Regions from separate parts of the Homo sapiens genome. Here region 1 is linked to region 2. Evidence: fine-mapped expression QTL. A gene starts in region 2. The other region holds a variant in brackets. All regions are shown on one strand. Distances are from middle to middle. Region 1 holds the start of LOC124902281 (a long non-coding RNA gene). Region 2 holds the start of CERCAM (cerebral endothelial cell adhesion molecule).

Evidence for each region. PIP is the estimated chance that this variant, and not a neighbour inherited with it, causes the effect.
Region 1: its variant is the best candidate, but not a certain one, in a credible set for the expression of CERCAM in whole blood (INTERVAL, PIP 0.57).

What each region holds. Positions count from the first base shown.
Region 1 is chr9:128,487,333-128,492,683 of GRCh38, forward strand. ODF2 (outer dense fiber of sperm tails 2) reads left to right here. Exons shown (of 21, transcript NM_001351578.2): 14 at 558-693; 15 at 5,094-5,204. It overlaps LOC124902281 (a long non-coding RNA gene), which reads right to left and starts at 1,065. Exons shown (of 2, transcript XR_007061803.1): 1 at 511-1,065. The variant G/A (reference allele first, on the strand shown) is at 2,802.
Region 2 is chr9:128,417,672-128,423,040 of GRCh38, forward strand. It overlaps CERCAM (cerebral endothelial cell adhesion molecule), which reads left to right and starts at 3,186. Exons shown (of 13, transcript NM_016174.5): 1 at 3,186-3,403; 2 at 5,197-5,307. The coding sequence starts at 3,207. RefSeq lists a silencer at 2,572-3,471 and an enhancer at 3,732-3,921.

The DNA of each region.
Region 1 (5,351 bases), 70 kb after region 2:
CGTCGTTCAGAGGTGGGACAGGCATGGGAGTACCACAGCAGCAATGCCAAGGCAGGGCAGCAGAGTTGCTTCTCAGTGTGGAGATTGGGGAGCAGGCAGGCAGTATATTGAGTGATGAGAACGCTGGGTCCCACACCACACAAAGACCTGGGTTCTTTAGAACCTGTGTAATTGGCCGGGTGCGGTGGCTCACACCTGTAATCCCAGCATTTTGGGAGGCCGAGGCGGGCAGATCACGAGGTCAGGAGATCGAGACCATCCTGGCTAACACGGTGAAACCCCGTCTCTACTAAAAATACAAGAACTTAGCCGGGCGTGGCGGTGGGCGCCTGTAGTCCCAGCTACTCGGGAGGCTGAGGCAGGAGAATGGCATGAACACGGGAGGCGGAGCTTGCAGTGAGCCAAGATCGCGCCACTGCACTCCAGCCTAGGTGACAGAGCGAGACTCCGTCTAAAAAAACAAACAAACAAAACACACACACACACACACACACACACACACAAACAAACCTGTGTAATTGATTCTCTCTGTCTGCTTTCACTTTGTGATCTTCCAGCCGGGTAACAGATCTTGTAAACCAACAACAAACCCTGGAGGAGAAGATGCGGGAAGACCGGGATAGCCTGGTGGAGAGACTACACCGTCAGACTGCTGAGTATTCCGCATTCAAGCTGGAGAATGAGAGGCTGAAGGTTCGCAGTGAGAGCTGGGGACCAGGCAGCTGGATGGGGCCCAGCGAGCTGATGAGGGGTCTTGTCTTACGTGGGCCTGGGGGCATCTTGACTAAGAGGGAGTCAGAAAAGCCTGGATTTGACCAGGCATGGTGGCTTAGGCCTGTAATCCCAACACTTTGGGAGGCCAAGGCAGGTGGATCACTTGAGCCTAGTTCGAGACCAGCCTGGGCAACATGGCAAAATCCTGTGTCTGCAAAACATACAAAAAGTAGCCAGGCGTGGAGGCATGCGCCTGTAGTCCCAGCTACTCGGGAGGCTGAGTTGGGAGAATCGCTTGAGCCTGGGAGGTTGAGGCTGTGGTGAGCCGAGATCGCCCCACTGCACTCCAGCCTGGAAAACAGAGAGAGACTCTGTGTCAAAAAAGAAAAGAAAGCCTGGATTCAAGTCCTTACTCTGCTGCTTCCTGGCTGTAGGACCTGAGTGAAAAACATTCCATGCCTCTTCCTTAGGTAGAGGAAATGAGGTCCTTGTGAGAATGTGGTAACGCATGTGAAATGCTTAACATGGTGTACTCAGCCTGCGCACATGAGATAGAACTCATTTGAGGTTAATGTGGGCTCTCCTGGGGGCCTGCTGGGCCCCTTCACAGGCATTAATTCTCACTTAAACTGTCCAACCTGCCAGTAACATGATGATTATCTCCATTTGAAATGAGAATAAGGGGCCGGGCTCACGTCTGTAATCCCAGCACTTTGGGAGGCTGAGGCAGGCGGATCACCTGAGGTCAGGAGTTCAAGACCAGCCTGGCCAACATAGCGAAACCCTGTCTGTACTAAAAATACAAAAAAAATTATCTGGGCATGGTGGTGTGTGCCTGTAATCCCAGCTACTCAGGAGGCTGAGGCAGGAGAATTGCTTGAGCCCAGGAAGTGGAGGTTGCAGTGAGCCGAGATTGCGCCACTGCACTCCAGCCTGGGCAACAGAGCGAAACTCCGTCTCAAAAGAAAAGAAAAGAAATGAGAATAAGGAAACTGAGGCTGAGAGAGAAGTCAAGTGTCTTGCCAAGATTTTGCCCTAGGAAGTATCAGAGTTGAGATTTGAACCCGAGTCTGACTCGAGCCCTAGCTCTTAAACTCACCATACCCACTTCCAGCCTGCCAGGAGTGAGAGGCACCTGAGCAGAGGTTGACATTTCAGAGACAGGTTTTATCTTGCTCTTTTGTTGATCTGGGCAATAACATCTAGCTTTATTTTTTCACTGATTTTGTTTTTTCTTGTTAAGATTGATTTTAAGGAAGAATAACATATGGAAAAGTACACAGATCCTAGAATTTTCATAAAGTGAATATACTTTGTCCATCACTCACTCTGATTGAACCTTGCCTGCACCCTAGTGACCTTTCTTGTTACTAATACCCCTGTAAAGGTAACTGCTAGCCCATCTCCTGTCACCACAAATTAGTTGCCTGCTTTTAACTGTAGAGATTTGAATAGTTTGAATATCCCTGGGCCTGGCGTCTACTCTGCAAGTTTGTTGAGTCAGCCCCATTGTTTGGAGGAGTTTATTCATCCTCAGCGCTCTAGGGTATGTCGTTATATGAACACACCACAGTATATTTGTCCATTCTACTGTCAGTGGACATTTGGGTTTCCATAGTGTTGCTGTGAACATCTTTGTATGTCTTTAGGTGTACACATTTGGTGCGTCTTTATTGTTTATATACCTTGAAGTAGAATTGCCAGGTCATCATGGGGTGTGCATTAAGTCTATATTTGGTAGATGTCACTGAATAGTAAAGTGTGTCACTGAGTAGTAAAGTAGTTACTGGTAGATGTTACTGAATAGTAAAGTAGTTGAACAAATCTCCACACCTGTCAGTGGTGAGTAAAAGGATAACAGTTGCTCCTTGCCTCCTTGGCAACGCTTGGTAGCTTGGTATTGAGTGTCTTATTTTATGTTAGCTACTCCGGTGGGAGTGTAGTAGTATCTCATTTGTATAGTGTAATTGTCGGATAAGTTAAAAATAACATGCACGTCTTAACAGTTATTTAGGAGGCCAGCCATGGTGGCTCACACCTGTAATCTCAATGTGAGAGGACTGCTTGAGGCCAGGACTTCTAGACCA[G/A]CCTGGGCAACCCCAGCAAGACCCCATCTCTACAAAAAAATTTTAAAAGCCAACAACTATTTAGGGGATTAGTTATAGTATGGTGCATCTGTATAGTGTATTACAGTGTGGTCATTCAAAATGATGTTTGTAGAAGTATATTTTCCTAGTCTAATTTTTTTTTTTTTGAGACAGAGTCTTGCTCTGTTGCCCAGGCTGGAGTGAAGTGGCATGATCTCAGCTCACTGCAACTTCCACCTCCCAGGATCAAGTGATTCTCCTGCCTCAGCCTCCCAAGTAGCTGGGATTACAGGCATCCACCACCATGCCCCGCTAATTTTTTGTATTTTTAGTAAGAGACAGGGTTTTACCACGTTGGCCAGGCTGGTCTCGAACTTCTGACCTCAGGTGATCAACCTGCCATGGCTTCCCAAAGTGTTGGGTTTATAGGTGTGAGCCACCACGCCTGGCCTTTCCTAGTATAATTATAAAAGTTAAATATGCTCATAGTAAAAATTCAAAACATTACAGAAATGTGATGTAGACATGAAGATCTTCGCTAGCCATGAACATATATTTTTCTAGATTATCCCCCAGTACTAACATATCAAGCACACACACATCCACTCATCCATCCATTATTCTGTCACTTGCTTTTCTGATTTAACTATATTTACGGACATCTGTTAAGGTTGGTTTTTTGAGCTTTATCTCTCTTTTAAGTGACTACTAGTTACTTTATTCATTTGATACACCATGATTTATATTGTCCCATTTAAGATGAATAATTGGGTTATAGGAAGACATTTATTTATTTATTTATTTATTTTTAAAATTTCCCACCTGCATTATAAGTTGAGAGGACATTCATTGACTTGAGAGAAGTTCACAACATAATTTTTTTTTTTAAATATATTTTTGGTAGAGATGGCGTTTTACCATGTTGGCCAGGCTGATCTCAAACTCCAGACCTCCAGGCTGGAGTGCAGTGGTGCAATCTCAGCTCGCTGCAACCTCCACCTCCCAGGTTCAAGTGATTCTTCTGCCTCAGCCTCCCAAGTAGCTGGGACTACAGGCACATGCCAGCACGTCCGGCTGATTTTTGTATTTTTAGTAGAGATGAGGTTTCACCATATTGGCCAGGCTGGTCTCGAACTCCTGACCTCGTGGTCTGCCCACCTTGGCCTCCCAAAGTGCTGGGATTACAGGTGTGAGCCACCACATCCGGCCCACAACATATTGTTAATTTTAAAAGTGTGTTACAGCTAGATGTGGTGGCTCACGCCTATAATCCCAGCACTTTGGGAGGCCGAGGTGGGCGGATCACTTGAGGTCTGGAGTTTGAGATCAGCCTGGCCAACATGGTAAAACCCCATCTCTACCAAAAATATAAAAAATTAGCCGGAGTGGGGGTGGTGGTGTGTCCCTGTAATCCCAGCTACTCTGGAGGCTGAGGCAGGAGAATAGCTTGAACCTGGGAGGTGGAGGTTGCATTGAGCCAAGGTTGTGCCTTTGCACTCCAGCCTGGGTGACAGAGCGAGACTCCATCTCAAAAAAAAATAAACAAATAAAAAGTATGTTACATACAACCTGGCAGATCCCATGGTGGGGAAAAACTATGTTACATAGCAGTAAGTATAGTATAGTCTCATTCTTTTTGACAGAAACGAAAAAGTTATGCAGCTATAGATATATAGCCATATCCAAGTCATTAAGCATTAGGATTAGTGTGTCTTGGTTTTATCCCCATTTTCTTTTTTTTTTTTTTTTTTGAGACGGAGTCTTGCTCTGTCGCCCAGGCTGGAGTGCAGGGGCACGATCTCACCTTACTGCAAGCTCCGCTTTCGGGTTCATGCCATCCTCCTGCCTCAGCCTCCCGAGTAGCTGGGACTACAGGCGCCCGCCACCACGCCCGGCTAATTTTTTGTACCTTTAGTAGAGACAGGATTTCACTGTGTTAGCCAGGATGGTCTTGATCTCCTAACCTTGTGATCCGCCCACCTCGGCCTCCCAAAGTGCTGGGATTATAGGCGTGAGCCACCGCGCCCGGCCTGGTTTTATCCCCATTTTCTTTAATGATTATATATTGCTTTTGGATTAAGAAAAAACAGAAGTCATTTATTTGCATCTCTATTCACTTGAGGTGGTAACATTAGGAGTCTTACCTGCTTCTCGGTGCTTCTCTCAGGGAAAGTGCTCTGTGGGTTAGAGTAGGGGGCCTTTCCTTTTCTGGTTCTTTGGATAGAGTTGAGGGTAGGAGGTCCACCTGAAGCAGAACCTTCCTGTGGGTTACTCATGAGCCATCCCTTCCAGGCCAGCTTTGCTCCAATGGAGGACAAACTCAACCAGGCACACCTCGAGGTCCAGCAGCTGAAGGCCTCAGTGAAGAACTATGAGGGGATGATTGACAACTATAAGAGTCAGGTAGGCCTCACTGGGGCCCTGGCCCTTCTGAGCAGTGCCCTCCCTGCCCCCATCAGACTGGGGGCTCCCTACCAGGCCACTCCCAGGGAGGGTTGGGTATGGAAGATGGTTTTCATCAAAACGTGGCTCTACCTAAGATGAACCACA
Region 2 (5,369 bases):
CTGGACTCCTGGGGAGGGTGGGAGGACTTGGGGGAAGAGGAGGACTTGAGGCCAGGGAAGAATCAGGAAGCCCCCTGTCTTAGTCCGTTTGGGCTGCTATAACAACATATCTTAGACTGCATAATGTATAAACAACAGAAATTTATCAGCCGGGTGCAGTGGCTCACACCTGTAATCCCAGCATTTTGGGAGGCTGAGGCAGCTGGATCACCTGAGGTCAGGAATTCGAGACCAGCCTGACCAACGTAGTGAAAACCCATCTCTACTAAAAATACAAAAAATTAGCCAAGCATAGTGGTGTGTGGCTGTAATCCCAGCTACTCAGGAGACTGAAGCAGGAGAATTGCTTGAACCACCCCCCAACCCCTGGCCAAAAAAAAAAAAGAAATTTATTGCTAATAGTTCTGGGGGGTTGGGAGGTCCAAGGTCAAGGCGTCAGCAGATTTGGTGTCTGGTAAGGGCCCGTTCCTCATACCTGGGGCCTTCTAGCTGTGTCTTCATGTGGCAGAAGGGGTTGACAAGCTCCCCAGGCCTCTTTTTTCTTTTTGAGACGGAGTCTCGCTCTGTTGCCAGGCTAGAGTACAGTGGCATGATCTTGGCTCACTGCAACCTCTGCCTCCTGGGTTCAAGCGATTCTCTTGCCTCAGCCTCCTGAGTAGCTGGGACTACAGGCACGCGACACCACACCCAGCTGATTTTTGTATTTTTAGTAAAGATGGGGTTTCACTATGTTGGCCAGGATGGTCTTGATCTCTTGACCTCATGATCCACCCCCCTCAGCCTCCCAAAGTGTTGGGATTACAGGCGTGAGCCACCGCATCCGGCCCCCAGGCCTCTTTTATAAGGGCACTAGCCGCATTCAGGTGGGGCAGCCCACCCAATCAACTCCCAAAGGCCCCGCCTGTTTTTTTTTTTGTTTTTTGTTTTTTGTTTTTTTTTTTTTGAGACAGAAGTCTCGCTCCGTCGCCCAGGCTGGAGTGCAGTGGCGCGATCTCGGCTCGCTACAAGCTCCGCCTCCTGGGTTCACGCCATTCTCCTGCCTCAGCCTCCTGAGTAGCTGGGACTACAGGCGCCCGCCACCACGCCCGGCTATTTTTTTCTATTTTTTAGTAGAGACAGGGTTTCGCCGTGTTAGCCAGGATGGTCTTGATCTCCTGACCTCGTGATCCGCCCGCCTCCGCCTCCCAAAGTGCTGGGATTACAAGCGCGAGCCACCGCGCCGTGCCGGCCCCGCTTCTTAATACCCTGACATTAACATTAGGTTTTCAACATGTGAGTTTTGAGGGTCACGGACATTCTGACCATAGCACCCTTGGACCAATAGGACAGGCAGAGGCTGTGGAATGACTCTGGGGTGGGTGAAGTAGGGAACACTGCTTTGCTTTAGAAAGGGAATCCCTCTTCTGGGGCTGGGAGTGGCTTCCCGCAGGGGACTACCGTGCAAGGGAGAAGAAATCTGGCATCTCTCCAGAATGCTTCTCATTGCAGGGCCGCTGGCCTAGAAATGGCCTCAAATGGAAGCTGCCACCCGATCCTGGTGGAGGCTTTGAGCTAGGCTAGAGATCAGGACTCCAGGGTTCAGTGCGCACGTGCTGCCCCTGCACTAGGTAAGTTCCTTCCTCTATGGACCTTCAGCCCTCCCCTTGCAGTGGAGATAGTGTGCACAGCCCTGGCTCCCCTCCCTGACCCTGGGAAAAGGCTGAAGGGAGACCCCGTGCTGTTCCTAGGAAAGGAGATCTTCCCAGCGGTGGGAGGGTGAAGGGGGAGCCTCCCTCTCCTCCAGTCCTGTCTTCCCAGCCCCAGGGCGGAGCTCTTCCTGTGTGTAAGCCTCCACGCGGGAAAAGCTGCCAGTGCATTCATTCTCTCGAGGAATCCCTGCAAACCCTCCCAGATGGGTGGCGTTATCAGCCCGATTTTACCCGAGAGGCTCCTGAGGGAAAGGGACCTGTCTGAGGTTGGTGACAGACACCCAGTTCGATCCCATCTGTGGTGCCGCCAGGCCGCTCCCTTTTCTGCTCCTCTCCCGAGAGGCTGCAGAGTTCTTTCCCTCCCAGCAGGGTCCTAAGGACCCCGGCGGTGCTCCAGGGGAGCCAACATCCCCTGCTTTGGAGGACGGACGGGTCGGGTCGCAGTGAGCAGCTCCGTGGTGTCCCCTAGTTCTACACTCAGACCAAGAGAGGGCTGTGAGGGCTGTGCTCTTTTTTTTTTTTTCTTTTTGAGACGGAGTCTCGGTCTGTCATCCAGGCTGTAGTGCAGTGGCGCGATCTCGGCTCACTGCAACCTCCGCCTCCCGGGTTCAAGCGATTCTCCTGCCTCAGCCTCCCAAGTAGCTGGGAGTACAGGCACCCGCCACGACGCCCGGCTAATTTTTGTATTTTTAGTACAGATGGGATTTCACCATCTTGGCCAGGCTGGTCTTGAACTGATCTCAGGTGATCCTCCCGCCTCGGTCTCCCAAAGTGCCGGGATTACAGGCGTGAGCTACCACGCCCGGCCTGGCTGTGCTCTCTTAAAGGGCCGAAGCAATGCGGGTGCTGGCGACCGACGCAAGGAGGTGACGCACAGGGGACTTAAGGAGCGGACCGCCGCGGGAGGACGCGCCCAGCTCAGGGGGACTCCCTCTGCGCCCCCCACGCTGGGTCTCCGGCCCACGCGTGGCCCGGCTGGTCTGCGGAGCTAGCGCCAGGGCCGCCAGAGGGCGCCCGGGGCGGAGGATGGGGCGGGAGCCGGGGAAGCCCGGGAGGTGGTGGCCGAGTGGGCGCCGCCCCTCTGGGTCTGCGGCTCAGGTCGAAGAGTCGGCTGCGTGGGCCGGGGAATCCGGATTCCGGGGGTTCAACGCCCAGGGGTTCCATGAGCCCCTACTGTTCTCGGACGCCCGGCCGGCCCCGACGCACTCGTCCTAGCACCCCTCCCCTGTCCGGTCCTCCGGCCCCTCCGCCGTCGCCCCTCCGGGGTCCAGCCGGGCGGGGCTGCTCCAGGGTCGCGGCTGGCGCGGGTCCCCGGGCCCTGGCCCTCCGGTGCCCCGGGCCAAGGAGAGAAAACTTGAGCATCCACGCACAGGGGTGGGGAGCAGGATCCCACTCTGAGGGTGCACTGCCCCGCCCTCTCCGGGTCTGCCTCGGCCCCGCCCGGGCCCCAGGCCCCGCCCCCTCCCCTCGGCCGGCCCGAGAGCTCCGGGGGCCGCTGCAGCCGCCCAAGCGCCCGCCATGCGCGCTGCCCGCGCCGCGCCGCTGCTCCAGCTGCTGCTCCTGCTGGGGCCGTGGCTGGAGGCTGCGGGCGTTGCGGAGTCGCCGCTGCCCGCCGTGGTCCTTGCCATCCTGGCCCGCAATGCCGAACACTCGCTGCCCCACTACCTGGGCGCTCTGGAGCGGCTGGACTACCCCCGGGCCAGGATGGCCCTCTGGTGAGAGACCCGGGCATTGGCACCGAGTGGGCACCTAACCCCCAGCTTCGCAGATGGCCCCCGCCCCCGGCGGCCCTGTCTGCTCGCTCCCTGCCCAGACACCACCTAGACAGGCCCCTCCCCTCACAGACGGCCCTGCCAGCCCGAGCCGCCAGAGAGGACCCCGAGCCCCCTGCTGGGAGACGACAGACCTCTGAGGCCACAGGCCGACGCGGGACACCCACCCCTCCTTCTGGTCCCCTACTCCTTCCTCTTGGGGCCTTCCCTGGGTGTAGGTTGGGCCCAGCCAGCCCTTTTCACCCCAGCCTTCAGGGCCCAGCTCAACCCCAGTGGGACCTGTGGTTGGCTGGATTTGAAGAGGAGCAGACAGGAACCTCTGAAGTCCACTGGGGCCCAACGTGGCAGGGATCGACCACGCTGGAGGCTTCCGGGCACAGGTTGGGGGTGCCATCAGCACTGGGCTCCGGGCTGTGCAGGGGAGTCAGACCGGCCCCCCCACCGCCCCCGTGCTGGGGCCAGCTCTCTTGGTAGATCTTGGTAGAGGGGCGGGATCCTGTCAGCCAAGGGCAGTCCCCCTTCCTGGAGCCTCTCCCCTCTGGCATCTCTGTACCCCCAGGGCACTGGGATCGAAGGCCACAACCCCTGGTCTGTAGACACCAGAACAGGGAGGAGTCCCTGGCTGAGGTTGGGGGTAAACTGAGAAAAATGACAAGCCACCCTCTTCAACACACCACAGTTGGGCTGGGGGGGTGGAGCCCTGGCCTGGGGAGGCCGCCCACAATTACCACAGTTTGGGAGTTTGTTAGTTCCCACCCCTGTAAGACTTGACACGTAGTCTTCATTTCTGGGGAATTGGCTTAAAGGGGCAGCATCACCCAAAACCTGGGCACTTGGCTAAACCCCCACCTCTGTTATGGGGGCCCCTTCCCCAGGAGAGGGGAGGCTGTGCCCCATGACAGCAGAGCTTGGACCCATCTGCATTCTTAGGGACGCTTAGAGCATGGTTTGGTCCTTATTACAACCTGGGGGTGGAGGAAAGCAGCAGCTCTTCTGTCTAGTCCCCATTCAGAGAGGGACAGGGGCTGGCCTGTGGTCACACAGCCACAGGTCACATAGGTAGGTATCTGCCCACCTAACGAAGGTAACCAGGGAATGCACCAGGTGTGATCCTTAAAGTCGAGGTACTTTTCATCTTTCAAAATGCATTCGTTGGCCAGGTGTGGTGGCTCACGCCTGTAATTTCAGCACTTTGGGAGGCCGAAGTGGGCAGATCACCTGAGGTGAGGAGTTCAAGACCAGCCTGGCTAACATGGTGAAACCCCATCTCTACTAAACAAACAAAAATTAGCCGGGCATGGTGGTGCACACCTGTAATCCCAGGTACTCAGGAGGCTGAGGCAGGAGAATCACTTGAACCCGGGAGGCGGAGGTTGCAGTGAGTCGAGATCATACCACTGCACTACAGCCTGGGCGACAGAGCAAGATTCCATCTCAAAAAAAATGCATTATTCTTCTCTTATCTTTGTCCATGACATAAGCAGGACAGCTTAAGTTATAGAGGGAGGACGTGAAGCCCAGAGAAAGATGGGACTTGCCTGAGGTCACACAGCAGGTCACAGAACTGTGGTGGGGACCTGGCTGTGCTGCCTCCAGCCTCTCTGCTGTAGCACACCTACCCTTCACTGTTCCAAGGAGAGCTCGACCTCAAAGGTGTTAGTGCTTTGGGGTCAAGGCTGCCTTGGGGTTCAATCCTGTGGCTGTGCCCCCTCAGCCTTTTTTCTTCCCGTCCCCAGGTGTGCCACGGACCACAATGTGGACAACACCACAGAGATGCTGCAGGAGTGGCTGGCGGCTGTGGGCGATGACTATGCTGCTGTGGTCTGGAGGCCTGAGGGCGAGCCCAGGTGGTGATCTGAGGGGAAGGGTGCTGGGGAAGATGGAGAACAGCTGCAGCCCAGAGAGGAAA